7 linked regions of the Homo sapiens genome follow. The protein of the gene in region 4 purifies or fractionates together with the protein of the main gene of each other region. This does not show direct contact. Each region holds a gene or a part of one and is shown on either strand. Other genes may lie near its edges.

Region 1 (3,951 bases), on a different chromosome or scaffold from region 4:
GGGAGGCTGAGGCGGACGGATCATGAGGTCAGGAGATCGAGACCATCCTAGCTAACATGGTGAAATCCCATCTCTACCAAAAATACAAAAAAATTAGCCGGGCATGGTGGCATGCGCCTGTAGTGCCAGCTACTCTGGAGGCTGAGGCAGGAGAATCACTTGAACCCGGGGGGGGGGGGGGGCGGAGGTTGCAATGAGCCGAGATCACACCACTGCACTCCAGCATGGATGATAGAGCGAGACTCCGTCTCCAAAAAAAAAAAAAAAAAAAAACCATACCTACTTAAGACTTAATTACAATTTTATGGCTGACACCAATAATCCCCTTTAATATTAAAAATACATCTATAAGCCAAAATAGAAATTTATTTTGCAAAATAAATGGTACAAGGTAAAAAATACAGTTTAAAAATATCAAGTCAATTGAGAAACAACCCCAAGCAGTACATTAAACTGTTTAAAATATGCCAAAATAAGTGACTAATTCAAAGTATCCTAACATTTTATTTCAATTAAGCAGTTCTAAAACTATAAAGTAAAAATTTTCTGGTGTTATTAACTTAAAGGTTACATATTTAGTGCAAGAAAAAATATAAAACAAAAGTATTCCCCAACTTAAATATAATTAAAGTATCTTTTTTTTTTTTTTTGACACGGAGTTTCCCTCACTCTTGTTGCCCAGGCTGGAGTGCAATGGCGCAATATCGGCTCACTGCAACCTCCGCCTCCCAGGTTCAAGCAATTCTCCTGCCTCAGCCTCCCAAGTAGCTGGGATTACAGACATGCGCCACCATGCCCGGCTAATTTTTTGCATTTTTAGTAGAGACGGAGTGTCTCCATGTTGGTCAGGTTGGTCTCGAACTCCTGACCTCAGGTGATCCACCCATCCTGGCCTCCCAAAGTGCTGGGATTACAGGCATGAGCCACCGTGACCAGCCTAATTAAAGTATCTTTTAAAGATATCCACACTTCTTTACTTTTTAAAAACAGATTAATTTTGGAACAATAGTTAAAAATAGTCTGCCAAGATATTGTATTACTCTCTCCCTGGAAGTGTAGTTTCAAAATCGGCAAGGTGATGCTGGGTGCGGTGGCTCATGCCTGTAATCCCAGCACTCTGGGAAGGACTGCTTGAGCCCAGGATTTCGAGACTAGCCTGAGCAACACAGCATCTCTACCAAAACAAACAAACAAACAAACAAAAAAAACCCAAGGATTTTTTTTAAAAACTCTGCAAGGTGACCCAACAAAACTGGAACGATACTCCTTGCAACATGGTCAAAACTTAGTCAGTTTCTACCTTCGCAATTGTCACCTGACCCTCTACTAGTCAGGTATTCCACACTTCCTCTCTAGAAACATGTGTTTCCTGTTATTTTGTTTTTAAATTATTAAATGAAAATCATGATGAGAAACATCATTTTACACTGTAGGGATAATTCCCTGGGCTAACCAGTAAAAAGCTATCAGTGCAGTTTAAAACAAAGTAAAGGGGCCCTATAGGCCCCACTGAAAAAGGTAGAAATATGACCAACTACTACCATATGCCTTTCCTTAGAAGAAACATAATGATTTAATGATGCCCCTAAGATTCATAAAGATACTAACTCTGAAATATCACAGAACATGACATAGGTTTCAAATGGAAGAACTCTTCTAATGAAGATGGAGAATAACACATTGTAAACTAGTATCTTTCACAACCTAATTGACACTTTCGGTGACTTTTTTTGGTGAATAAACATCTTAACATATTCATTTTCCCCTATACACATTTTGATTACACCTCATAATGCAACACGGTAAAAAGGACGTGATTGACTTTTCTGTGCAACCTACTAAAATATGTCCTTTCTTATAAGGAAATTAATTTTGGTTGCAACTTTTACCTGTCACTTTTCATGAACCTCACCACCACATAATTCAAGACAGAGATATATTAACTATATACTGAAGTCTTAAGTATTTGGGGGTAGAAGACACCTTTGAAAACCTGAATAAAATTATGAGTCTTCTCCTTCCAAAAGTATGGTAACAAGAAATTAAAAAGTCAAAGTTCTAAAAATCTTCTCAACTGGACCTACCTGATTTTAAATTTAACTATAAAGCTATCATAACTAAGGTAGTGGGGTATTAGCCTAAGAAAACACACACAGATCAATAAAACAGTAGAATCCAAAACTCACAAACATAAGCAATTGATTTCAATAAAAGTGCCAAGGTGATTCAAAAGAAATTTGATAAATGTGAAACAACTGGACATCCATATGTAAAATAATGAATGAACCTTAACCACTGCTTCACAATTGCTGGAGTGCAATGACGCGATCTCGGCTCACTACAACCTCCCTCTCCCGGGTTCAAGTGTTTCTCCTGCCTCAGCCTCCCAGGTAGCTGGGATTGCAGGTGCCCACCACCATGCTCGGCTAATTTTTGTATTTTTAGTAGAGAGGGGGTTTCACCATGTTGGCCAGGCCAGTCTCAAACTCCTGACCTCAGGTGATCTGCCCTCCTCAGCCTCCCAAAGTGCTGAAATTACAGGTGTGAGCCACCATGCCCGGCCCCACTGATATGACTTTTATATGACTCCATTTATATGACTTTCTGGAAAGGGCACAGAGATCAGACCAGTGTTTGCCAGGGGCTGAGGGTAGAAGATGAAACTGAGTGCAAAGAGGAACTAGGAGCTGGGCTTGGTGCATGCCTGTAGTCCTAGCTACTTGGGAGGCTGAGGCTGGAAGATTGCTTGAGCCCAGAGTTCAAGTCCAGCCTGGGCAATACAGTGAAACTCCACCTCTCTCTCCCTCTCAAATAAATCAATCTAGTTTTTACAAAAGCAATTATGAACTTTCTATAGACCTCTAACCTACATCTTACTTTGAGAACCTCAAATATAACATATATAGTCTCCCTTAGACCAGGAGTCAGAACAGTTCAGCCCATGAACTGGCCCACTATCTGCTTTTGTATAGCTCACAAGCTAAGAATACTTTTTACATGTTTAAGTGGTAGAAAAAAAATCAAAAGAAGATTTTCATGACACATGAAAATGATATGAAATTCAAATTTCAGTGTCCTGAAAATGACTACTGGAACAGAGTCAAACTCATTTGTTTAAATATTGTCTATTAGCTACTTCTGAGCTACTACAGTATTGTTGAGGAATTGTGAGAGGAACTGTATGTCCCACAATGCCTAAAATATTTGCCATCTGACCCTTAAGATTGCTGACCTCTGCCTTAAGACACAAGTTGTTGAAATTTTCTACACAGATGATACCTGAGAAGATTTATGCCAGCACAAACCTCTCTTCCATACATAGTAGCTCTAAAATTTTTACAGCCATAAAACCCTTTTTTCAAGGAAACTAACATGTAAAGCAGATAAATGAAGAACTTCAATAGTTATGGTATAGGGCAGCACTCCCCAACCTTTTTGGGACCAGTGACCAATTTCATGGAAGACAATTTTTCCATGGACAGGGGTAGAGGGGGTTTCAGGATGAAATTGTTCCACCTCAGATCATCAGGCATTAGATTCTCACAAGAAGCACACAATCTAGATCCCTCACATGCACAGTTTCTGATAGGGTTCACGCTCCTGCCGCTGATCTGACAGGAGGTGGAGCTTTGGCGGTAATGCTCACTTGCCTGCCACTCACCTCCTGCGGTGTAGTCAGGTTCCTAACAGGTCACGGACTGGTAGATACGAGGCTGTGGCCCAGGGGTTGGGGGCCCCTGGTATAGAGGCACTAAACAGAGCCCTGGGGTAACCTCTGAAGAAGGTCCTTGAAACCCCAAAACAGTGTTTTTCAAACTGCCTGTTGCAGCCAATTTGGCTGTCAATTTCATAAGGTGATTTTGTGACCGGCAGAAAAAAAGAATAGAATGTTACAGAAAATCAGATCACCTCATATCCAGTAAGGTTTTATTCACTAATTCTTTCACCAAA
Region 2 (4,749 bases), on a different chromosome or scaffold from region 4:
CAATAAGTTTTTGGTGAAATAACAAAGAGGTAAAAGTGGAAGAAACTTGTTATATATGAAAAGTACTGATGTGTGTGGTTGAGTTAAATTGTAATGGTATCTCTAGAGCTGCCCTTGACTACGGCCAAAATTTTATTGCCACGACATCTCTATGGATCACGTAAAAATGTATCCAGTTATTCAGCACGTATTTATTGAGCACCTACTATGTTCTAAGAGCTGAGGATACAGCAAAAACAAATATAAAGATAAGATTCCTATTGTCAGCCGAAGGTAGGGGTTGGGGGAGATAGATAATTAAAAAGTAAATGTGTAACTGTCAACTATCTGCAAGTGCTAGGAAGAAAAGACTAAAGGGATAGAGAAAGATCGCCATCTTATTTTAAAAAGATGGCCTTAGGAAGGCTTTTCTGGCAGGATGGTGATTAATTTTAAATCAAGTTCAGTAAGAATTTGGAGTGTGCTTGCAGGAAGTCCCTGGGAAACTCTGCTACTTCTCGGCTATAGGATCTTATTCTCAGTTGCCTAAATTCACTGAGCCTAGCCTGTAAAATTCAGAGAGGATGAGGAACATGGATTGTAAACGATAATAACTATCGTTTATGAATGTAATTTTATTATATTATGATTTTTTCTGAATGTAATAACGTCCCCATGCCCAAAGGAAAAAAAAAATTCCAATCTACTGAGGGGGTTCTTGTCACTGTTCCTGGCATTTGCGCTTAGGAATGGAATCGGGACCCTGCCACTGAGCAGGCATCCCCTTCTGCAAATTCAGAAAGTACATGATTGCTAGCTTCAGTTCCATCATCTATAAATCGGAAATAATGTCATGTTGACCACGTAGGGTTTTTGTTGTTAAATTGACATTTATTGAGCTACAGCTATTAATATTTCGGTGCATTGAGCCACGTCAATGCACCGGCATGGTCTTAGACTATGGATTTATGTGCATTTATTTAATCCAAGTAAACCAAGTACTATTTTTAATGGCATTTTACAGCCAAGGAGACCCAGGCACAGAGGGGTTAAATCTAGAGCCCCCACAGCCAGGGATCCAACCCAGACAACGTGGCTGCTGAGCCTGGCAATGTTGTTATGCGATCAGCCCTGTGCCTAGCACATAGTAAGAGCTCAATAAATCTGTATGGTGCTGGTGGCTGTTATCAGTTCTTGGCAGCGGCTGCTCCACGATTTCCACTTGTCAAGAGTATAGGGTAGCCAGTTTATTGGAAGCAGCAGCTAGGGAGCGCTTGCATAGCAACCATAGTTTTCTGCGTAGCAACCATAATGCTCACTTAAATTGGGAGGCTTAGAGGAGCTGACGGGGCCTGTGGGGAAGGGGGAGTTAGCCGGCCACCCCTAGGCAAGCCACTTTGCAGTGGAAACTGCACGCAGCCCCTGCAAGGCGAGCTCTCCCCACCGAGCCTCCCTGTGAGCCGGTCCTCCTGACGCGCAACCCCCCTCCCTTTTGAAGCAGATGGTTCTTCCCGTTGTCCCTGCTCTTTCAGTTTCCGCGCTTTGGAGTCACAAAGCGCGGGGTCACGTGGGCGGGCCGTGCGCTTTGTGACGTCAGCCGCCCCGCCTCTCGGCCCGCCTATCCGCGCACGCCAGCCCCGCCTCGCGCGCGCCGCCCGTGCAATCCCTGCTTAAGAGACCCCGCAGTGGGGCGCTCGTCCGAAGCCAGGCCGCGTCCGCCATAGTACCTGGCTTGGAGGTGTCGCCGCCGCTCGGTGAGAGCCCCCGAGCGGCAGGGGGCCAACACAAAAAGGGAGCCGGAGAAGCCCTAGCCGCTGCCCAGCAGCTTGCGGGCGTGTTCTCGCGGTTCCGGGCCTCAAGGCGACGGAAACGAAAGGCGAGCGAAGCGCGGAGGATCCGGCGAGAAGAAGCGTCAGGGAGCCTCGGCGGTGTCCCCGGGGTCCGCCGAAGCCACCCGGCCGCCGGCTGGGGCCCGGGGTGGTGAGGAAGTGCTCCGAGGCCTCGCCGAGGCCTAGCGCCGGCTTTGTGTCCGAGGCGGCGGCGGCGGCGGGGGGAGGCGGAGCCGGGGGCGGCCTGCGGGAAGGCCTCTCCTCCGCCGACCGCGCGTTTTCGGCCTAGGCCGTGGGGCCGCTCGTGGCCTCCGGGGAGCAGGCGCCAGGGGTTTGTGTGCGGTGGGGGCCTGGGCCTGGGCCTGGGGAAGCTGACGCCGGTCGTCCGGAAGCCAGGAGGAGGCGTGAGGCCGCTCGTGGACTCCGGGCCTAGGCCCTCTCCCCTCAACCTTCTCCCGGGGCCTGGGTCACCCCAATCCACGGAGAGAGAGACCCGCCGGGAGGTGCGGCCGCGCTATGGACCCCTGACCCCGTGGGGTCGCTCGGACTCTTAACGTGTGGACTGACCGCTACTGACTGCACCGCCAATCCCCCCGTCTCTGCCGGCCCCTTAGCATGAGCGAGGGGGACCCAGCCGGGTGACATTGTGCCCGTTGGCGGATTCTCGATTTCCCCTCTTCCCCGTCCTCGTCCTCCTCCTCCCCCATGAAGTGATTCTGAGTATCGGGGGGTCTCTGGATTATTGTTCTGACGAACCCCTGCTTGTGGTTGGGGGGTATTTAATCTGAGGCCTTAGGGTCCTTCGGTGTCTTTGAGTGTTTTGTGTGTACATATTTTGCTCTTAAAGTTTATAAATATACGTATATTGAGAGTGTCCACGTCTCCTCGCTGAACCTTAGGAATCCCTTGGCACCATGTCCTGTGTGCATTATAAATTTTCCTCTAAACTCAACTATGATACCGTCACCTTTGATGGGCTCCACATCTCCCTCTGCGACTTAAAGAAGCAGATTATGGGGAGAGAGAAGCTGAAAGCTGCCGACTGCGACCTGCAGATCACCAATGCGCAGACGAAAGAAGGTAAGGGCCGCTTGGTCTTAAGATATTTGGTGGCTGGAGAGAGATACTAGCTAGAAGGTGCCTGGCAGGAAGCTAACCGCCATTATGTCTCTAGTGGGGACTGTTCGTTCTAGTACTTTGGATACAACTTTCATTGATAGCCAAGGTTTGCAGCAGTTGGCCTTGGAGTTTCACTGGTTTATTTTATTTCTGCATACTTGGGTCATCTGTAACAGGCTAACCCAAAACGTGGAAGCCTGATTATTCTTCTCGCTGTTTTTTAAAATGAGGGAGGGAGGAGAGGGGGATAGCTATCTAGACTCTTTGAGTGCTTGTCTTAGGGCGTTTTCTAACTTATTTTCCATCAGGAGGGCAGGAGAGCCTGTGCAAAGCTTGTTTGTTCAATCAGCAAAAAAAAAAACAAAAAAAAAACCAAAAAAACAATTTTCTAACCTAACAACATTGTGGAGTTTGATGGCAAATTTTATGTCCTGCCTTCCTCCCTCCTCGCATTTATTTATTTGGAGTTGCTTGCCTGTGTTGTGGATAAGGGATCTGAACTTTAATATTTTTGAGGATTTAATCAGTATTGGAATTGTTTTTGGATCTTGAAATGTTCTGATGTCACCGCTCTTGTCTTGTGTGTCAATTCCAGAATTAGTAATACGGCAATTAAGTAGTTAAACTGTTAGTTCATCACATTACTCTTAAGCTTTATCAATTCGGTGAAGATCAAAAGTACTGATTTTTTTTAAAGTAGTAGTTGCTAGATTTTACGTGACTGTTGATACTAAGGTACTGAAAAATAGGCTGCTACCATAGAGTACAAATAAGCCACTGATAAGAATCGTTAGATTCTTTCTCCTTTTCAAAAGTATTTTGATAATATTGGGAACTTAACAGTAGATAAATGTGACAAGCAGTCTTTCCTGACTCTGAACTTGTTTTGGTTTCTTTTTCTCAGATCAGTAATGCTGATGTGTATTTTTTAGCAGTTCGGTGTTCTAAAAGTTACTGATGGAATGAGAAGAAGTGAAGTTACAATTAGGTTAGGGTATTTTTTTAGTCACTAAATTTTTATCACACTTAAGGTGTGACATGGATTCTTTTAGTTGAAATGGGAGGTCCCCCACCTCCAGCCTGTAGTTTAGGTAGAGTAAATCTTGTCATGTAGAAGACCAGTTTTCCATTTACAATGCAGACCTAAGTATAATTGTATTAGGTTAAGGAACAGCAGTGCTGGCATATCATGACTCAAAAATATTAAGGAAGAATTTATTTGCTCAAATGATATTATGTGAAAATACTGTCTGCTTCCCCACCTTTTAAAAACAAGTGTCATACCCTTTGATAATTGGAGCTATGTGTAATCCTCTGCCTAAGGAGAGGAAAAACTGGTGGTGGTCATGAACAGTTGAGAAATAGCTTTATTTAAGTGCCTCACAAGCATCCCTTAACTACAACAGTCACATTTCACAGAACAGATGGGTTTATAAGAAGTTTGGGCCATCTTGACATATTGAGTATTTATGAATGAGAGGAGAGACAATATGAATGGAATTAAAGGATATTAAGGCAATTTTAATCGTCATATATTCAGGTTTCATATTTTACTGGAGTATTACACAATCGAATCATTAGGGCTAGGCGTTATCCATCTTTTCGACCCAACAATTGAATGCAGCTTTTTTTTTTTTTTTCCCCTGAAACAGAGTCTCACTCTGTCACCCAGGCTGGAGTGCAGTGGCACCATCTTAGCTCACTGCAACCTCCGCCTCCCTGGTTTGAGCGATTCTCATGCCTCAGCCTCCCAAGTAGCTGGGACTACAGGCATGCGCCACTACACCCAGCTAATTTTTTTTTGTATTTTTAGTAGAGATGG
Region 3 (3,423 bases), on a different chromosome or scaffold from region 4:
AATCAATATAGCCATTGTAAACATTTAGCTGTTCATGACAGATGTTCAAAAAAAGGCATCCTGGCATTCAAAAACAATTGTTTATTTGATTTCAGTTATGGTAAACCTTCATAATCCCTCTTTCACTATCCTTCTCAAAACCCCCCAACTCCCAAATTAGAAAATTAATTAAATACTTATTACCAAATCCAAGCTACATATATGCTGTTACTTATATCTGAACAGGATTTTTTTATTCATATTAAGTAAACCAAATTATAAGCCAAATTAGAATCGAGTGGTGGGTGCTTTACATTTTTCCCCTGTTTTGCACTGTTTAGGGGGTATATGGGGACGGTGGGAACTAGTGATTAAGTACTGTGATGAAGCTTTTATTGTCTTGTTCAGACAAACACTGGATAAAGCTGTTTATTATCCATTACCATCTGTGTTTCATTTTCATGAATTTATCATGCTAAAAAGAAAGGAGAAGTGCCTCTGTGAGACATAGAAAATTTGAATAATTTGCAAACAATTTGTTGCTTATAATTTTATGACTGCCTTTTAAAAATTTTAGAATCCTAGGCCGGGCATGGTGGCTCACGCCTGTTATCCCAGCACCTTGTGAGGCCCAGGTGGGTGAATCACGAGGTCAGGATCAGCCTGGCCAACATGGTGAAACCCTGCCTCTACTAAAAATACAAAAATTAGCCGGGTGTGGTGGCAAGCGCCTGTAATCCCAGCTACTAAGGAGGTTGAGGCAGGAGAATTGCTTGAACCCAGGAGGCGGAGGTTGCAGTGAGCCGAGATTGCACCACTGCACTCCAGCCTGGGTGACAGAGCAAGACTCTGTCTAGAAAAAAAAAAATACAAAAATTAGCCAGGCGCGGTGATGCATTCCTGTAATCCCAGCTACTCGGAGGCTGAGGCTCAAGAATCACTTGAACCTGGTAGTCGGAGATTGCAGTGAGCCAAGATCGCGCCACTGCACTCCAGCCTGGGAGACAGAGTGAGACTTCGTCTCTAAATAAATAAATAATTAATTAAAATAAAATAAAATAAATAGAATCCTGACAGTAAGATAGAGTTGAAGGAATAGGGAAATTGGATTTTAGTATTTGGGATCTTAATCTTTTTCTCCTGTCAACTTACTGCAAGCCTTTTTTCTCCTGTCAACTTACTACAAGCCATTTGACTTTACTGCCTTATTTTTTCCAGGCTTTAAAGTGAGGGCACTTTAATATTTGTTAATATTCCTAAAGATCCTTGCAGGAAAGATATAATTCTTTAAATGCTATTCTCCTCCTTGTGTTTAGTATTGCTGTCAAAATGTTACAATACATATATATAATTTAAAAGTCATCTTGACATATCTAAATAAGGCCCCGTTTAAGAATGTTACTCATTTTTCTTTAAAGGGCCCTTTAGATATAATTACCTGAAATATGCATTTTTCTTTAGTACTAAGGTTGGTTTGCTTTGTGTTTTTTAATGTTATTTCTAATGCATCACTAAAAGACTTCTATCGAGTACAAGTAATTCATTAACTGATGATAACTCTTTAAAACAGGGTATTCCTAGTTCTTCTCATGTAAGTAATAACATGAGTACACCAGTTTTGCCTGCTCCGACAGCAGCCCCAGGAAATACGGGAATGGTTCAGGGACCAAGTTCTGGTAATACTTCGTCATCAAGTCACAGCAAAGCCTCTAATGCTGCTGTAAAATTGGCAGAAAGCAAAGTAAGTGTTGCAGTGGAAGCCAGCGCAGATAGCTCGAAGACAGACAAGGCAAGTTCAAGGTTGAGAGCAACCTTCATAATTCTGTATATGATAAAGGAGAAAAAATATCAGCTTTTTATTGTATGAGTGGTGAAGGGAATTTCTTATTGGCTGTCTAAATGCCATTATTATTTGAAGGATTCTCTCTAGATGTGTTGATGTCCAGTAAATTACTGGTAATATTTTATAATTGTTTTTAGAAATGTTTGATATGTTTTAGTAAATAAACTGTTTTATATTTGTCACGTTAATAGTTGGAGAGTCTCTTATTGTAAATATGAAGTATTTTCAATTTCTTGTTTGGGATTTTGTGAGAGCAGTATGACTGGCAAATAATAAATTATACATTTTCTTCTCATCAGAAATTGCAAATTCAAGAAAAAGCAGCACAAGAGGTAAAATTGGCCATCAAGCCATTTTACCAAAATAAAGATATCACCAAGGAAGAATATAAAGAAATTGTACGGAAAGCAGTAGATAAAGTAAGTTATGGCTTTAGTGGAGTATGTGCACGTTGTTTTGAACCACCTCTGTTTTAATAAATGAATGCTGAAGTTTAATTAAAATAATAAAAGCTAGCTCCTACTAATTCCTGTCTACTTTTTTGCCTTTTGATTAGTTTGTGTGAGATAATGAAACATGAAAATAAGTCTGGTTATCTCTTTGGGGTTGTTTTTCACAAAGCTTTCTATTTTGGCTTTAATCCCTTTAAGCATGAAAAAAGTTTACCCCCCACCCCTTTTTTCTTAGGTTTGTCATAGTAAGAGTGGAGAAGTAAATTCTACTAAAGTGGCAAATCTGGTTAAAGCCTATGTAGACAAATACAAATATTCACGGAAGGGGAGCCAAAAGAAAACTCTGGAAGAACCTGTGTCTACTGAAAAAAACATAGGCTGAAATGGGGAACGCTGTCAAGGACATTATCAGGATATCTGCAAAGTGCAATTTCAACATGTACCATTAACTGAAAATCATACATAACTGTGATTGAAATTTGGTTTTGATAAAATTATTTTTTTAACATAGGATATGATGTTTTGTTCTAAATAAATATAGGTCTGCACTGCAACTTCTGTATCCTTCCTTCCCCTCCACCCTCCCCCACAAAATTCAAGGGAAAGTAAAGGGTTTAAAGGAATGTGCATCTTTACTAGGACTGTGTTATAGTGTGGATACTGGAAAATGTATAGCTTTTTGATTAGGGCAATGGAGTGCATAAATTAGAAACTTCTAAGTGCACTGGTTTTCAAAGAGATATATATAATGCATTTATTCTGTCAGGTTAAAATGTAAAGTATGATCTTTATGATTTTTTCCCTCTAATTATAGAAAGTTAAATAATGTATTACCATGAAAAATGTTTCTAATATTAAATAGAACATATCAGTTGCAAAGTTCCTAATGTGTATTTTTAAAGCACATATCTGAATAAATTGCCTAGATAGAAAAAAAATTATCACGAGTAAAATTTAGTGTTCAAAACATTGAGACACTCTTCACCTATTGTATGACCAAATAAAGGTTATGCTGCTTGTTTTTCTTTTGTGCCTTTGTTTACCCCTAATTGAGATAAGCAGTTTGACTTACTAGATTACAACTTTGGCAGTTCAAAGTCTTTGTTGAAGACTTTGAGGAAAAAGATTTGGAAAAATTGTTGACTTTCG
Region 4 (3,951 bases):
GACCATTCTGAGTGCCTCTAGACAATGTCACTGGAAGATAAACCTTTATTTTGTAGAAATAGATTTAGTTTTCAGAAACAGCTAGGAAGTCTTTGAAAACCAAGTCTGATGAGAAAATATTGATGATCTAGGTGAGTGATAATTATTTCATTTTTTAAAAAAGGGGGTGATAGCTGTAAAATAATGAAACAATATTCTTCTGAGTTTCATACACAGATTTGGGAGGAAGTTTCAAAATTAAGTAGTAAGATTGTACAGATTAAGCATTACACATTTTATTAAGGAAACAGAGAAAGTGTGGTAGACTGGAAAGAATAGTGGCCTAGGGAGACAAGGAGCCCTGATTCCTATACCCCTCTGGAACTATTAGCTGCATACTCTCAAGCTAGTTTCTTCCCCTCTCTGAATCTCATTTCTTCATCCATAGGAGAATGTGTTCTCAAATTCCAAACAAGTAACACGCAAGTTAATTTTAGATACAACTCACTGGAAAATTGAAGACACAGATGCATAGATTATATCTTTTTTAAGATTATAGGACATTAGCTGGGCATGGTGACATGTGCGTGTGGTCCTAGCTACTTGGGAGGCTGAGGCAAGGGAATCACTTGAGCCCAGGAATTCGAGGCTGCAGTGAGCAGGCCTCTGCACTCCATCCTGGGCAAGAGAGAGAGACCCTGTCTCAAAAAAACAAACAAACAAAAAAACATTATAGGACAACTCTTTTGTGAAAAAGTACGTAAGTTTTGTTAAGCAGCTCTCATTGTTATATGATCATACTTATTATATGGTACAGAGAAAAAGAAAAGACACTATTATTGTAGACAGATGTTGTAAAGATGAAAGTTTGTGATGATGAGATCAATATGGTGATGGGCCTGTTCCTATTTCCTGTCTGTAATGTGTCCACTGCAGGAAGGAGCAAAGGAGTATGCCATGCTCCACAACCCCCGCTCCAAGTGCTCTGGTCGTCGCCGGAGAAGGCACCACATAGTCAGTGCTTCCTGCTCCAATGCCTCAGCCTCTGCTGTGGCTGAGACTAAAGAAGGAGACAGTGACAGGGACACAGGCAATGACTGGGCCTCCAGTTCTTCAGGTACGATGAACAGAAAATGAAGACTTTTTCTTTCCATGCAAGGACTCTGGTAAACCCAGGATCACTGCCTGACACTTAACTTTACTACCTCTTAAAAATTATAAATTCTTTCTACAAGTTTTGTAAACAGTAAAGATGGGGAATATTTTCTTTTTTTTTTTTTTTTTTTTTGAAACAGTCTCTCGCTTTTTTGCCCAGGCTGGAGTGCAGTGGTGCTATCTTGGCTCACTGCAACCTCCACCTCCCAGGTTCAAGCGATTCTCCTGCCTCAGCCTCCCAAGTAGCTGGGATTACAGGTGCCTGCCACCACGCCCGGCTAATTTTTATATTTTTAGTAGAGACGGGGTTTCGCCATGTTGGCCAGGCTGGTCTTGAACTTCTGACCTCAGGTGATCCGCCTGCCTCGGCGTCCTAAAGTGCTGGGATTACAGGCGTGAGCCACCCTGCCTGGCTAATTTTTGTATTTTTAGTAGAGACAGGGTTTCGCCATGTTGCCCAGGCTGGTCTTGAACTCCTGAGCTCAAGCAATCCACCCACCTCGGCCTCCCAAAATGCAGGGATTACAGGCGTGAGCCACCATGCCTGGCCTAAAGATAGGGAATATTTTCATTCCTAACTGTTCTACCTTTTAAAGTAGAATGAAGTACTTCTGAGTTTGTGACAAACTACTGATGACAACTGCATTCTACCTTCTTCTGATTCTGTTATTTCTTCCCTTCTCAGAGGCTAACTCTCGCTGTCAGACTCCCACAAAACAGAAGGCTAGTCCAGCCCCACCTCAACTCTGCGTAGTGGAAGCACCCTCGGAGCCTGTGGAATGGACTGGGGCTGAAGAATCTCTTTTTCGAGTCTTCCATGGCACCTACTTCAACAACTTCTGTTCAATAGCCAGGCTTCTGGGGACCAAGACGTGCAAGCAGGTACCATCTGGAAGCAGCAGAACAAATGGGCCCCTCCTTTCACGCATTGCTCTGTCCAGCCCTTTGCCATCTTACCAGGCTGTGTGTCTGGGTCTGGAGAGAAGTTGTCTTAAGTTCAGTCCCTGATGAGCCTGTGCTTCTGTGAGTTTCCCAAACATGGCCCTTCTGCAAGTGCCAGGCCTAATGATGTTTGGGGACCCGCCTCCTCCTTGCTGAATGCTCATTTCTGTCTGGACTCTATTTAATGCTTCTGGGTCCTACACTCTTTCGCTTCTTTTTTTTGGCTCTGGCCTCCTTTCTAAATGTGTACCCCTTTCCCAGAAGGGACTCCCAGGTCTTTCTGTGGCTCTTGTTAATGAGCACACTGCTGCTGCTGCTGCAGCTGCTGCAGCTGCTGCTCCCTCCACCACTCCGCCAGCCTCTTCAGTCATTTTATTCTCCACATTTTCTATCACTAGATTATCTTTATTTTGTCTTTGAGACAGGGTTTCACTGTGTCGCCCAGGCTGGAGTGCAGTGGCATGATCATAGCTCACTGCAACCTCCGCCTCCTGGGCTCAAGCAGTCCTCTCCCCTCAGCCAAGCAAGTAGCAAGGGACTACAGGTGCAGGCCAGTATGCCCAGCTAATTTTTTTTTTTTTTTGAGACAGAATCTCGCTCTGTTGCCCAGGCTGGAGTGGTGCAGTGGCATAATCTTGGTTCACTGCAACCTCCGCCTCCCAAGTTCAAGTGATTCTTCTGCCTCATCCTCCCAAGCAACTGGGATTACAGGTGCCCACCACCACACCCAGCTAATTTTTTTTGTTTTGTTTTTTTGAGATGGAGTCTCGGTCTGTTGCCCAGGCTGGAGTGCAGTGGCATGATCTCAGCTCACTGCAGCCTCCGCCTCCCAGGTTCAAGTGATTCTTCTGCCACAGCCTCCCAAGTAGCTGGGATTACAGGTGTGCACCACCACGCCCGGCTAATTTTGTATTTGTAATAGAGACGGGGTTTCACCATGTTGGCCAGGCTGGTCTCAAACTCCTGACCTCAGGTGATCCACCCGCCTCGGCCTCCCAAAGTGCTGGGATTACAGGCATGAGCCAATGTGCCTGGCCATTTTTGTATTTTTTTTTAGTAGAGATGGGGTTTCACCATGTTGGCCAGGCTGGTCTCAAACTCCTGACCTCAAGTGATTGGCCCAGGAAAAGACAGGAAAAGACCACAGTGAGAAGACAGACTGAAGAACAGGGACAAGGAGGCAGCTGTCAGGGCCAGCATGTCCAACAGGAAAGGAACCCCAATGCTTTGGCTTCCTACCTTCTGGAGGAGACTCTGTGGCCTCTTCTTCATGCTTCCTGTACTGAGAACAATTAATAGAACCATGGACTGGGCAAGGTGGCTCACACCTAGAATTCCAGTGCTTTGGGAAGCCATGGTGGGAGGATCGCTTGAAGCCAGGATTTCAGGACCAGTGTGGGCAACAAAGTGAGACCCCATTTCTACAAAAAAAAAAAAAAAAAAAAAGCCACGTACCTGTAGTCCTAGTACTCAGGAGGCTGAGGTGGGAAGATGGCTTGAGCCCAGGAGTTCTATACTACATTGAGCTATGATGGCACCACTGCACTCCAGCCTGGCCAAGAGTATGAGACCCTCTCTCTTAAAAAAAAAAAAAAAAAACAAACAAAAACAGAACCATGAGCTGAAGTGCCCTTTGCTTTCATTTTGGAGCTCATACCTATTTCCCTGATCACAGGTTCTCAACGTAACCATCTATGGATTTGTATGCAAGAATGTTCTTGTCTGTATTTTCCTGAGAATAGTTACAGTTTTCAAAGATCCCCCACAAAGGGCCAATAGCCCCAACAAAGAAAAGGAAAAACTAAAAACCAGTGCTTTAAGAGAAAAAACACATCCTATTGAAATGGCTGAGGCTCCGGTATCTTTATACTGACA
Region 5 (3,951 bases), on a different chromosome or scaffold from region 4:
GAAGCAGAGGAATGGAGCGGACGGTCGTGATGGATAAATCGAAAGGAGAGCCCGTCATTAGCGTGAAAACCACAAGCAGGTCCAAAGAGAGAGTGAGTATTGCCTCTGCCATCTCAGGGCCAGCTGTTTCTCACGATGGCTCCACGGCCCGTTTGATCCGCATTATGAAAACAGCACTGTTTTGCCTTTAAAATTGAAGTTTGTAGGAGGCGCGATAATTGTGTAGATTGCGGATACAGACACACACATGAATCCTGGTGCTTTCTGCAGAGCAGTGCCCATCCGTGTTTGCTTCCCTTACTGGCTCCTGACCGGGATGTGCCGCCTTCAGACAGAGCATTGGTTCACACGGCAGCTCACCATAGGGTGGGATGGGCCAGACCCAGGCTTTTCGAGCCGGAAGGCAGGTCCTACTCTTTGGTTGACTTAATAGCAGGCTACTTTCTTCCATTGGTTTTTTAGTCTCCTATTAAATTAACCAAAAAGGTAGAGACCAACCTAGGACAGAGAGCTGGTCATGTTATCAGATCAAGAGCTGTACCTCTCGAGTTGTGCACACAACTAGACGAAATAGCGTCTCATTTGCGTTTTTCACTCTGGGAAACAATAAAAACCTCTGCTTCCCAGCTGCAGGTTCTAGCTAAGATATTCATGAGGTGACAGTACTTTTTTAACGAATGTGGAGTTCACCATATTCAGCCAGGACCACTTTGTGTTGTTAAGACTTAACTTTTTTTTTTTTTTTTTTTTGAGATGGAGTCTTGCTGTGTCACTCAGGCTGGAGTGCAGTGGCGTGATCTCTGCTCACTGCAACCACTGCCTCCTGGGTTCAAGCGACTCCTGCCTCAGCCTCTCGAGTAGCTGGGATTACAGGCAACAGGCACACATCACCACACCAGGCTAATTTTTTTACTTTTAGTAGAGACGGGATTTTGCCACGTTGGCCAGGCTGGTCTCGAACTCCTGACCTCAAGTGATCCACCCGCCTCAGCCTCCCAAAGTGCTGGGATTACAGGCTTGAGCCACCGTGCCCAACCAAGACTTAGTTTTTAAAATGAACATTTGGATTTTATAAAGTATCAGTTCCTAATGTCATTTTTCACATGAAAATCATAAGATACAGAGAAATGTAGAGTAGAACATTGAAAAAGACCCATACTCTTACCCCCATGTAACTGTGATGTTGAAAACAAGTAGTGATGACACATGCATGATTAGAACATCTGGTCAGCTTGAGGAGATGCAGCACGGGCATACTAAAGCCTCCGTGTGTCCAGTTGGGCTCCTCGGCTTCCTCTGCACACACGTCCCCTGTGCCTGCCATGGGACCACAGACAGAGGATGTGCTGGAGCTTGCACTTTCTGTGTAATATGCCTTGGAGGTCTCTACATACAGACACATACGGTTTGGCTTTTTTCCTTTTTGCTTTTTTTTCTTTTCGCTTTTACATATATTTTTTATTTTATGCATGATATTTACCTATTAAAAAAAATAAAGGGTGGGAGTGTCTCACTTTGTTGCTTAGCCTGGCTTCAAGTGATTCTCTCGCCTTGATCTTCCAAACTTGCTGGATTAGAGGTGTGCGCCACCACTCCCAGCCTCTTTTAACGTTTAAATTTTGAAATAAAGTGCTGTTCAGAAAGGTTGTGGAGGGGACTTAAATCTCCTGGGTGTGTTGCACCTGCCAGGTCGCTAGTAAGTGGCTAAGCTGGCCTGAGAACCCAGGAGTCCCGTGCTGACACTGTTGCCTGCTGTGCTGCCCACTGTGCGGTGGTATGTGGGCATCTGTCACCTTATTCTACTGCAGTGTGTGTAAGACATCTGCCCGTCTCGTAGGCAAAGCTTGCCATCAAAGTGCTGGGTGATGTGTGTCTCTCCTGTGTCTGTGTGCCCCTTTCTCCCCAGCCTGCATTTTATTAATAATTGGTGTAATGTCTCATCTTGACCTTTGCCTGTCTTTCTGTTGGGTTGGTTTGTTTTTCATTGCTCGCTCTTTCTCTCCTATGGGGGCTAATTAGGGAAATAAACTGAGTAGCTTTTTAAAAATGTCATTTCCCAGGCCCCTGCCCCAGAGATTCTGTGTGGATCAGCAGGAGGCCTCAGGTTCTGTGTTGTTTAAAAGCTTCCTGGGAGGGTCTGATGTGTAGCCAGTTTGGGTGAGGGGCCCTGGAGAACCTTGGAAATGGGAGTCAGTTGTTACAGCTCTGAGCTTTATGCCACAGATAGAAAATGATGAATGTAGGCTGGGTGCGGTGGCTCACACCTGTAATCCCGGCACTTTGGGAGGATGAAGCAGCAGATCACTTGAGCTCAGGAGTTTGAGACCAGCCTGGACAATAGGGCGAAACCCTGTCTCTACAAAAATAGAAAAATTAGTCAGGCATGGTGGTGTGCACCTGTGGTCTCAGCTACTGAGGAGGCTGAGGTGGGAGGATCACTTGATCCTGCAGTGAGCTGTGACTGAGCCACTGTACTCCAGGCTGGACAACAGAACAAGACTGGGTCTCAAACCCAAAAAACCTACAAAAAATAAATTACGGAAGTTGGCTATTAGTGTTCTGTACCTTATTAGGAGCACTGTTTTGCATTAAAGCATTTTGGCATATTCTCTTTATTTATTTGAGACGGAGTCCCGCTCTGTCACCCAGGCTGGAGTACAGTGGCGCAATCTCAGCTCACTGCCACCTCTGCTTCCCAGGTTCAAGCGATTCTTCTGCTTCAGCCTCTTAAGTAGCTGGGATTACAGGCATGCGCCACCACGCCTAGCTAATTTTTGTATTTTTAGTTGAGACGGGGTTTCACCATGTTGGTCAGGCTGGTCTCGAACTCCTGATGTTGTGATCCGCCCACCTTGGCCTCCTGAAATGCTGGGATTACAGGTGTGAGCCACTGCGCCCGGCCTGGCATATTCTATTTAGAGCTGTCTGCCTGAGTCCTGAGCCAGCAGTTGAGATGTGAAACATGTAGTCTGCCCTCCAGCTGTCCAAACAGCTGGCCTGACTGCTGTCCCCTCTGAACTAATGGCCACAGTGGCCCTGTGCGGATGTGCCCGTGGCTCTGAGAGGCCTAGGTTTGCTTTGGATTATGTGAGTCCTTGGCTGTGCTATGCTAGAAGAACTGTGCCTGTAGGTTTTCTGAGGCGTGGGCCAACCTCTTCTCTTCCATGAATGCCCCTTGACATCTGAAAGCAGGATTCTGGATTAGGCAGTAAAATGCAAACTTGGAGGGAAGCAGCCTATGCCTGGGCCTCTGGTCTGGAGACCACAGCCTTCCATCTACACCATGTGGGGCCAGAGAATCTTAGTCTCATGCACACGTGCATAATCTCCATTGTTTGTTTGTTGCAATCATTTTCCTGACATTAATAAACCAGTTTTGGTAAACAGAGCTCCAAGAGTCAGGATCGCAAGTCAGAAAGCAAAGAAAAGAGAGACATCTTGTCGTTTGATAAAATCAAAGAACAAAGGGAGAGAGAGCGCCAGAGGCAGCGGGAACGGGAGATCCGCGAAACGGAGAGGCGGCGGTGAGTGGAGCTGGGTGAGGCTGTGGGCTGGTGGTTTCCTCTCGGGGTGGCTGTCCTTCTCCCAGCTGTACTTGGAGTGCGCAGTCTGTGTGCCCGAGAGCCAGTGCCTGGGCTGGCGGGTGTCGTGCTTAACCTGGGTCCTCGAGGCAGGGGCCAGCACCTGTTCACACGTGAGCCGCCAGACATGCCAGGTGGCATGAAAGTCATCAAAGGGCCAGGTGCAGTGGCTCACACCTGTAATCCGAGCACTTTGGGATGCCAGGGCCAGAGGATCCCCTGAAGCCAGGAGTTCAAGACCATCCTAGGCAATGTAGCGAGACCCCACCTCTACAAAATATTTAAAAATTAGCTGGGCATGGTGGCGTGCACTTGTAGTCCCAGCTACTCAGGAGGTTGAGGTGGGAGGATTGCTGGAGCCCAGAAGCTC
Region 6 (3,951 bases), on a different chromosome or scaffold from region 4:
AGTGAGACTCTGTCTAAAAAAAAAAGAAATGAAACATGTAAGAGGCTCCAGAAGAAGGGCTAAATTGGCAGATTGGAGTTTTGAATAGGTGGAAGTCAGTGATTCACTGAAGTAGTGGGTGGGGAGAAGAAATGAGAATTTCCTCCCTCCCTGTGGGATTTCATCTGTACTGGCTGCTGTGGGGTTTCCTTGTGGTGAGAAGATGGGGTCTTCTCCCCGGCAGGCTCTACACCCAGAGCGCCTACAAGAATGAGCTCCTGACCACCACAGTGCCCGAGATCCAGAGGACTAACCTGGCCAACGTGGTGCTGCTGCTCAAGTCCCTCGGGGTGCAGGACCTGCTGCAGTTCCACTTCATGGACCCGCCCCCGGAGGACAACATGCTCAACTCTATGTATCAGCTCTGGATCCTCGGGGCCCTGGACAACACAGGTGAGGCGGCCCCGGGAGCCTCATGGGTGCTGGCGCTTGACTTCCTTCTTTCCTCTACTGTCCCGTCAAATATCCGGGTTTGCTCATCTCTCCTAGGTGGTCTGACCTCTACCGGGCGGCTGATGGTGGAGTTCCCGCTGGACCCTGCCCTGTCCAAGATGCTCATCGTGTCCTGTGACATGGGCTGCAGCTCCGAGATCCTGCTCATCGTTTCCATGCTCTCGGTCCCAGCCATCTTCTACAGGCCCAAGGTGGGGCAGCGGCTGGCTCCCCTCTCCCCGGAGGGCTCGAGGAAGTGTTGGGGAGGGGAATGGCTTCTCTCTGTATTACTGAAATGGAACAGAGGGCAGAATCAGAGTTTCTGAAGAATGATTTTGCTGTTCTCGGTTAAGCAGGTTGGGGTAGGGGAAAGGAAGGGCTGGGCCAGTGGTTCTCAGGGAATGCTTTGGAAATTTGCAAGAGCATTTTTTATCTTCTAGTATGGTTGCTCTTGAGCCCTCATGTTTTAGAGTAGACCTTTTTAAAAATTATTTTAATTTTTCTCAAATTGTCAGGGCAACCTATTGACATGTTTGAAGTTCTATGTGTGGGTAGGTGGTAGTGTTAGAACCTCTGGGATGTGCTCAGTGGGCCTGGACCCCCCTGTACTTAGAGTGAAGGTTCTTTTTCCCTTCCTAGGGTCGAGAGGAGGAGAGTGATCAAATCCGGGAGAAGTTCGCTGTTCCTGAGAGCGATCATTTGACCTACCTGAATGTTTACCTGCAGTGGAAGAACAATAATTACTCCACCATCTGGTGTAACGATCATTTCATCCATGCTAAGGCCATGCGGAAGGTAGAGTGGTGGATGAGCAGGATGTTGGGATGAGGGGAGGGTCGAGAGGAAAGGAGGGCTCCCTCCTGGTGCCTCCGTCTCCTGCCCTAGGTCCGGGAGGTGCGAGCTCAACTCAAGGACATCATGGTGCAGCAGCGGATGAGCCTGGCCTCGTGTGGCACTGACTGGGACATCGTCAGGAAGTGCATCTGTGCTGCCTATTTCCACCAAGCAGCCAAGCTCAAGGTGAACCCAGGAGCCCAGTGAGCCCCTCCCAGCCTGATACCTGTATAAGGGCAAAGTTCTTCCTTTGTCCTGGTGTGGTTCTGCAGATCTGGGCTTCCGCCAAAGGCTGTGTCAAGAGTGTTAAGGGATGGGGTCGCTGCCCAAATGGGTGTTGTTTTCCTGATGTGGCTGCCTGTTGTGTCTCCTCCCTAGGGAATCGGGGAGTACGTGAACATCCGCACAGGGATGCCCTGCCACTTGCACCCCACCAGCTCCCTTTTTGGAATGGGCTACACCCCAGATTACATAGTGTATCACGAGTTGGTCATGACCACCAAGGTGAGTCTTTTCCAAGGCACTTGCATAATGCAGGCCCCCTGTCTGGCCAGGCTTTGAAACCCTTCACTGCGTTCTGGCATGAGCTTTTAGCCTGGGAGCCTTGAGGCCACATGCATTGTTTTGCGGGGCATGTGAGGTTGGTTTTCATTTGGGGACTTGGGGAAGCTCTGCACAGGGTTGACCTCTAGACTGCATTGACCTCAGCTGCATGGGCACGATTGTTCCCCACTTGCTGCTTGGGATGAGCAACCCCTCTTGGTGTCATTAGAAGGATTTTCGGAGGGGTTGGGCCTTTTCTTTTAGATACTGGGGGCATTTTCTCAAGTGTGGAGGAGTTTGGATGGGAGTATCTGGGGTTTTTCCTTTCCTTTTTTCAGCCTTGCAGGGCCAGGGATTGGGCCCTTCCCATGTGGCTCCTAATTGTGGAACCACTCTGGGAGGGACATTGGCCCTCCTGTGACCCTCGCCTCCCTGCCCTTCTGCCCGCAGGAGTATATGCAGTGTGTGACCGCTGTGGACGGGGAGTGGCTGGCGGAGCTGGGCCCCATGTTCTATAGCGTGAAACAGGCGGGCAAGTCACGGCAGGTGAGGATTCTGTGCTCTTCGCAGGGGTGCTGTTTGCCTGTGGGGTCGGTGTTCCCTCCGCTTGGTATTGAAGACTTGCGGTCATCCAACCCACTTACTTCTCTCTGCAAACATAAAGGCTGTGATCCAGCAGGCTGGGTCTGTCTGATTCCCCACCACCCACTCCAGTTGTTTGGTAGGCTGAGCCTTTAAAAACAAAACCAAAAAACTCATTATTGAAAAGTCCAAATATTCATGAAAGTGGGAAAAACAGTACAACAGGCCACCATGAATTCGTTGCCTTGCCTCTATAATTGTCAACGTTTGTTCAATTTCACTATTCCTACCCCACTCCACACACATCCATTTTTTTTTTCTGGAATATTTTAAAGCTTATCTCATACATTATTCATCCATAAATACTTGAGTATGTGTCTCTGACTAAAAGGACTTAAAATTTTAAATATAACCTCTGTGCCGTTATCACTCATAAAAAAATGAATACTTAATGTCACCTAAGTCTCCAGTCCGCATTTGGATTTCTCCATTTATCTCAAAGATAACTTCTTATGATCGATTTGCTTGAATTAGGATCCAGGCATTGCAACTGCTTATGTGTGTTAACTGTTTCATTCTAGAACAGGCTCCACCCCACGCTTTTTTTCATGACATTGATTTATTGGAGCAGCCAGGTCATTTGTCCTGTCGAATAGTCCATATGATGTATTTGCCTCATTGCTTGCTCACAGCGGTGTTTAACCTGTGCCTGTGTTTCGTGCACTTGCTGTAAGCTGGCGATGAGTCCAACCGCTCAATTAGATCCCGGCTGAGCTGCGTGTGGCAGAGATGCCTGCATGTGGCACTGTGAACCTCCTCTTAGATGCCTTCAGGAGGCATGTGAGGTCTGGTGGCCCCACCTTTGCTGATGGGAGGATGGATGAGGGGCCCCAGTGGTGGCAGCCTGCCTCTTCCCTGATAGGTTTCCACTGCTCCTCCATCTTGAGGTTTTAGCGTCTGTTGATGGCCATTGCCTAGATCCATATTTAGGGTTGCAAAATGGTGCTGGGCTTTGGCTTACCCCTTTTCGTAGCATAATTCTCCCCATACCAGGCTCCCTTGCATCTTATGCCTGTCTCTTCCAGCCAGCAGGTAATCACATCTTCCCTGTTTTTCTGTACTTCCTAGCATAGTTGTGAACTTGATTTTTCAAAAAAGAAGGAAATGTAAGTACTTCCTGGACTGAGGGATGACTGAGTTAGGACTGATTGTCCAGTGTCTTGAGTCAGTGAAAAAAGCAGGCCTCAGCTGCAGAAGAGAAGGCGGCTTTGGTACTGGGGCAGGCAGCCATGTGGAGCACTGGCCTGGTGGATGCAGCACCTGGTTTGTGGCAGGGACTTGGGTGCCGACGAGGCCTCCTTCCTTAGTGGTCCCCAGTAGGCTCAGCCAGGTCTGTCCCTCTTCAATAGGAGAACCGTCGTCGGGCCAAAGAGGAAGCCTCTGCCATGGAGGAGGAGATGGCGCTGGCCGAGGAGCAGCTGCGAGCCCGGCGGCAGGAGCAGGAGAAGCGCAGCCCCCTGG
Region 7 (3,951 bases), on a different chromosome or scaffold from region 4:
CACCAGAGGACGAGGATGAGGATGAGGCCATCACCTCGTCCATCATGGCCCCTAACTCACCCCAGCACTCTCACCTACTGGGACCCCAAACTGGCCCCCAGAGATTTCAAGAGACTACTGCGAAGTGCGCACAGCAGGCTTCAGTACGGTAAGCTGGGAACAATCTTGTTCTGATAAAAGCAATACTCCATGTATTATCTCTGCCTGAATATTAACCCTCCAGGTCCAAATGGCCCTCCAACAAGATGGCTCCTGCTCTCTCTGCACAGCACCTGTCCTCCCTTGCTAGTTGATTATCTGGGTTGTTACTGACTCATGTCTGTCCTCCTGCTAGACCTTAGAGTTTTCCAAGGCAGGGCCTACATGTCTCTCTCTCTCTGTCTCTCTCCCTCTCTATCTATCTATCCGAAACAGAGTTTTACTCTGTCGCCCAGGCTGGAGTGCAGTGGGGCAATCTTGGCTCACTGCAACCTCCTCCACCCAGGCTCAAGAGATTGTCATGTCTCAGCCTCCTGAGCAGCTGGGATTACAAGCATGTGCCACCACACCTGGCTAATTTTTGTATTTTTGTAGAGATGGGGTTTCGCTATGTTGGCTGGGCTGTTCTCGAACTTCTAACCTCAAGCCATCCTCCCACCTCATCCTCCCAAGGTGTTGGGATTACAGGTGTGAGCCACCACACCTGACCTATTTATTTAAGAGACAGGGTCTTGCTCTGCTGCCCTGGCTAAAGTGCAGAGTGCAATGGTGCGATAACAGGGACTGCAGGCATGTGCCACTCTGCCTGGCTAATTTTTTAATTTTTTTTTTTTTTTTTGGTAGAGGTAACATCTCACTATGTTGCCTAGGCTGGTCTTGAACTCCTGGCCTCAAGCAATGGTCCCACCTCAGCCTCCCAAGTCACTAGGACTAAAGGCATGTGACACTGTTCCTGGCCAATGCCATTTTTTTGACAGGCATGAAGGGCAGCTCTGACAACAGTATATCAGCTGTGCTCAACTTTGATTTAAATATATTTAGGCCCCTGGGTTTGCCTTTGTGCTAACTTGTTAAAAACATATTTTTTAAAAAGTAAAACATATACTTTGCAAAAAAAAAAAAGAGGGAGAGAGTGAAGATAAAATATAAAATGCCCTGTGATTCTTCCAGCAAGATTGCTTTGGCTGTTTTCTTAGAAATGTTTGATGCCCAGGCTGGGCGCGGTGGCTCACGCCTGTAATCCCAGCACTTTGGGAGGCCGAGGTGGGCGGATCACGAGGTCAGGAGATAGAGACCATCCTGGCTAACACAGTGAAACCCCATCTCTACTAAAAATACAAAGAATTAGCCAGATGTGGTAGCAGGCGCCTGTAGTCCCAGCTACCCGGGAGGCTGAGGCAGAAGAATGGCGTGAACCAAGGAGGCAGAGCTTGCAGTGAGCCAAGATTGCGCCACTGCACTCCAGCCTGGGCGACAGAGCGAGACTCTGTCTCAAAAAAAAAAAAAAAAAAAAAAAGAAATGTATGATGCCCAAAGAAATGCTTGCAGATCCCAGCTCTGAGCTGCAGGCCCACATGGGTAAAGAAACACAGGCTTTGGCTAAGCATGGTGGCTCATCCCTGTAATCCCAGCTACTTGGGAGACTGAGGTAGGAGAATCACTTGAGCCCAGGAGTTTGAGGCTGCAGTGACATATGATCATGCCACTGCACGTCTGCCTGGGCAACAGAGTGAGATCATGTTTCTTAAAACAAAAAAAAGTAACAGAGGCTCATTATGGAACAAATGGAAATGTAGAAAAACTGAAATAAGCCTAGGCAATATGGAGAAAACCCCATCTCTACGAACAAAACAAAAAATTAGCTGGGTGTGGTGGCGTGTGCCTATAATTCCAGCATTCCAGAGGATCACCGGAGCCCAGGAGGTCAAGGCGGAAGTGGGCCGCAATCATGCCACTGCACTCTAGCCTGGGTGACAGAGTAAGATCATTTAAAAAAAAATAAAAAGAAAAACTGAAACAGAAAGGAATGGAAAAACCCAACAATGTCTCCCTACTTTGCAACAGCCACTATTAACACTGGTATATATCTTTATTTTGCTCTCTAAATTAGAAGTCAGAGGAAATAAGGCTGTGATCACAGCACACACTCTACTTCTTCCATTTCCTACTGTAGCACACCATCCTGCTCCAATCTCAAATTCCTCACATACGCTGCTTTTTAAACCCGCATGACGTTCCACCATATGGATGTACCCAATGGTGCAAAAAGCTCATGGAGTCCACAGGGCTAGCCTTTTTCCTTTAAATAGGAGAAAGGAATAATTTTTAGTTCATCAGAACTAAAATAACCTAAATACATCAACAAGGGGCACTGGTTAAATAAATTACGGGCCATCCACAGGGAAGATGGGGCAGCCCTGAAAAGTTGAAATTTTAGACAAGCAATCAAATACAATGTTAAAGGAAAAACAAGGCCAGGCGCGGTGGCTCACGCCTGTAATCCCAGCACTTTGGGAGGCCAAGGCGGGTGGATCACGTGGTCAGGAGATCGAGACCATCCTGGCTAAAACAGTGAAACCCCGTCTCTACTAAAAATTAAAAAAAAAATTAGCCGGGCATGGTGGGGGGCACCTGCAGTCCCAGCTACTCAGGAGGCTGAGGCAGGAGAATGGTGTGAACCCAGGAGGCAGAGCCTGCAGTGAGCCGAGATCGTGCCACTGCACTCCAGCCTGGGCAACAGCGCAAGACTCCATCTCAAAAAAAAAATAAATAAATAAAATAAATAAATAAAAAAAAACAAAAGGACAGGCTATAAAACAGTATCTACAGTGTGGTTCTACTTACATCAAAATACATTTGAATTAAAAATTGTTACAAAGGCCGGGTGCGGGACCTCACACCTGTAATCCCAGCACTTCGGTAGGCCAAAGCAGGCGGATCACCTGAGGTCAGGAGTTCAAGACCAGCCTGGCCAACATGATGAAACCCCGTCTCTACTAAAAATACAAAAAATTAGCCGGGCGTGGTAGCGGGCACCTGTAATCCCAGTCACTGGGGAGGCTGAGACAGAAGAATCACTTGAACCCAGGAAGCGAATGTTGCAGTGGGCCAAGATCGCGCCATTGCACTCCAGCCTGGACAACAGAGTTAGACTTCATCTCAAATATAAAAAAAAATTGTTAGACAAACACATCGGGCCAGGAGCAGTGGCTCACACCTGTAAACCTAATGCTTTGGGAGGCCAAGGTAGGAGGATCACTTGAACCCAGAAGTTCAAAACCAACCTGGGCAACATAGTGAGACCCCATCTACACAAAATTTAAAAATTAGCTAGGCATGGCAGTGGACATCTGTAGTCCCAGCTACTCAAGAGGCTGAGGTGGGAAGATAGCTTGAGTCCAGGAATTCCAGACTGCAGTGAGCTATGATAGTGCCACTGTACTGCAGCCTGGGTGACAGAGTGAGATCCTGCCTCTGAAATAAAACAGGCCCGGCACGGTGGCTCAAGGCTGTAATCCCAGCACTTTGGGAGGCAGAGGCGGGTAGGTCACCTGTGGCCAGGAGTTCAAGACTAGCCTGGTCAACATAGTGAAACCCTGTCTCAACTAAAATACAAAAAAATGGCCGGGCTCAGAGACTTATGCCTGTAATCCTAGCACTTAGGGAGGCCGAGGTGGGAGGAACAACCTGAGGCCAGGAGTTAAAGACCAGCCTGGCCAACATGATGAAACCCCATCTCTACTAAAATACAAAAATTAGCCGGGCACGATGGTGGGTTCCTGTAATCCCAGCTACTCGGGAGGCTGAGCAGGAGAATCACTTGAGCCCAAGAGGCGGAGGTCGCAGTGAGCCAAGATCACACCACTGCACTCCAGCCTGGGCGGCTGAGTGAGACTCTGTCTCAAAAAATAAAATAAATAAATAAATAAATAAATAAATAAATAGCCGGGCATCGTGGCGCACACTGGTAAT

The links.
Region 1: the proteins of EZH1 (region 4) and BRAF purify together in Homo sapiens (pull-down; one large-scale study listed by IntAct). This does not show direct contact.
Region 2: the proteins of EZH1 (region 4) and RBBP6 purify together in Homo sapiens (affinity purification with mass spectrometry; one large-scale study listed by BioGRID and IntAct). This does not show direct contact.
Region 3: the proteins of EZH1 (region 4) and SCAF11 purify together in Homo sapiens (affinity purification with mass spectrometry; one large-scale study listed by BioGRID and IntAct). This does not show direct contact.
Region 5: the proteins of EZH1 (region 4) and SAFB2 purify together in Homo sapiens (affinity purification with mass spectrometry; one large-scale study listed by BioGRID and IntAct). This does not show direct contact.
Region 6: the proteins of EZH1 (region 4) and DHX38 purify together in Homo sapiens (affinity purification with mass spectrometry; one large-scale study listed by BioGRID and IntAct). This does not show direct contact.
Region 7: the proteins of EZH1 (region 4) and SUGP1 purify together in Homo sapiens (affinity purification with mass spectrometry; one large-scale study listed by BioGRID and IntAct). This does not show direct contact.

What each region holds. Positions count from the first base shown.
Region 1 is NC_000007.14:140,914,798-140,918,748, forward strand, and holds part of BRAF (serine/threonine-protein kinase B-raf), read right to left. Parts: intron 1-3,951. UniProt on the Homo sapiens protein: Protein kinase involved in the transduction of mitogenic signals from the cell membrane to the nucleus. Phosphorylates MAP2K1, and thereby activates the MAP kinase signal transduction pathway. Phosphorylates PFKFB2.
Region 2 is NC_000016.10:24,537,905-24,542,653, forward strand, and holds the start of RBBP6 (E3 ubiquitin-protein ligase RBBP6), read left to right. Parts: upstream 1-1,661; 5' UTR 1,662-2,722; coding exon 2,723-2,888; intron 2,889-4,749. UniProt on the Homo sapiens protein: E3 ubiquitin-protein ligase which promotes ubiquitination of YBX1, leading to its degradation by the proteasome.
Region 3 is NC_000012.12:45,921,281-45,924,703, reverse strand, and holds part of SCAF11 (protein SCAF11), read left to right. Parts: intron 1-1,549; coding exon 1,550-1,768; intron 1,769-2,121; coding exon 2,122-2,241; intron 2,242-2,509; coding exon 2,510-2,656; 3' UTR 2,657-3,423. UniProt on the Homo sapiens protein: Plays a role in pre-mRNA alternative splicing by regulating spliceosome assembly.
Region 4 is NC_000017.11:42,710,354-42,714,304, reverse strand, and holds part of EZH1 (histone-lysine N-methyltransferase EZH1), read left to right. Parts: intron 1-915; coding exon 916-1,096; intron 1,097-1,819; coding exon 1,820-2,016; intron 2,017-3,951.
Region 5 is NC_000019.10:5,594,934-5,598,884, reverse strand, and holds part of SAFB2 (scaffold attachment factor B2), read left to right. Parts: coding exon 1-92; intron 93-3,387; coding exon 3,388-3,524; intron 3,525-3,951. UniProt on the Homo sapiens protein: Binds to scaffold/matrix attachment region (S/MAR) DNA. Can function as an estrogen receptor corepressor and can also inhibit cell proliferation.
Region 6 is NC_000016.10:72,107,117-72,111,067, forward strand, and holds part of DHX38 (pre-mRNA-splicing factor ATP-dependent RNA helicase PRP16), read left to right. Parts: intron 1-223; coding exon 224-432; intron 433-528; coding exon 529-683; intron 684-1,110; coding exon 1,111-1,266; intron 1,267-1,356; coding exon 1,357-1,491; intron 1,492-1,683; coding exon 1,684-1,809; intron 1,810-2,298; coding exon 2,299-2,394; intron 2,395-3,839; coding exon 3,840-3,951. UniProt on the Homo sapiens protein: Probable ATP-binding RNA helicase. Involved in pre-mRNA splicing as component of the spliceosome.
Region 7 is NC_000019.10:19,310,255-19,314,205, forward strand, and holds part of SUGP1 (SURP and G-patch domain-containing protein 1), read right to left. Parts: intron 1-3,951.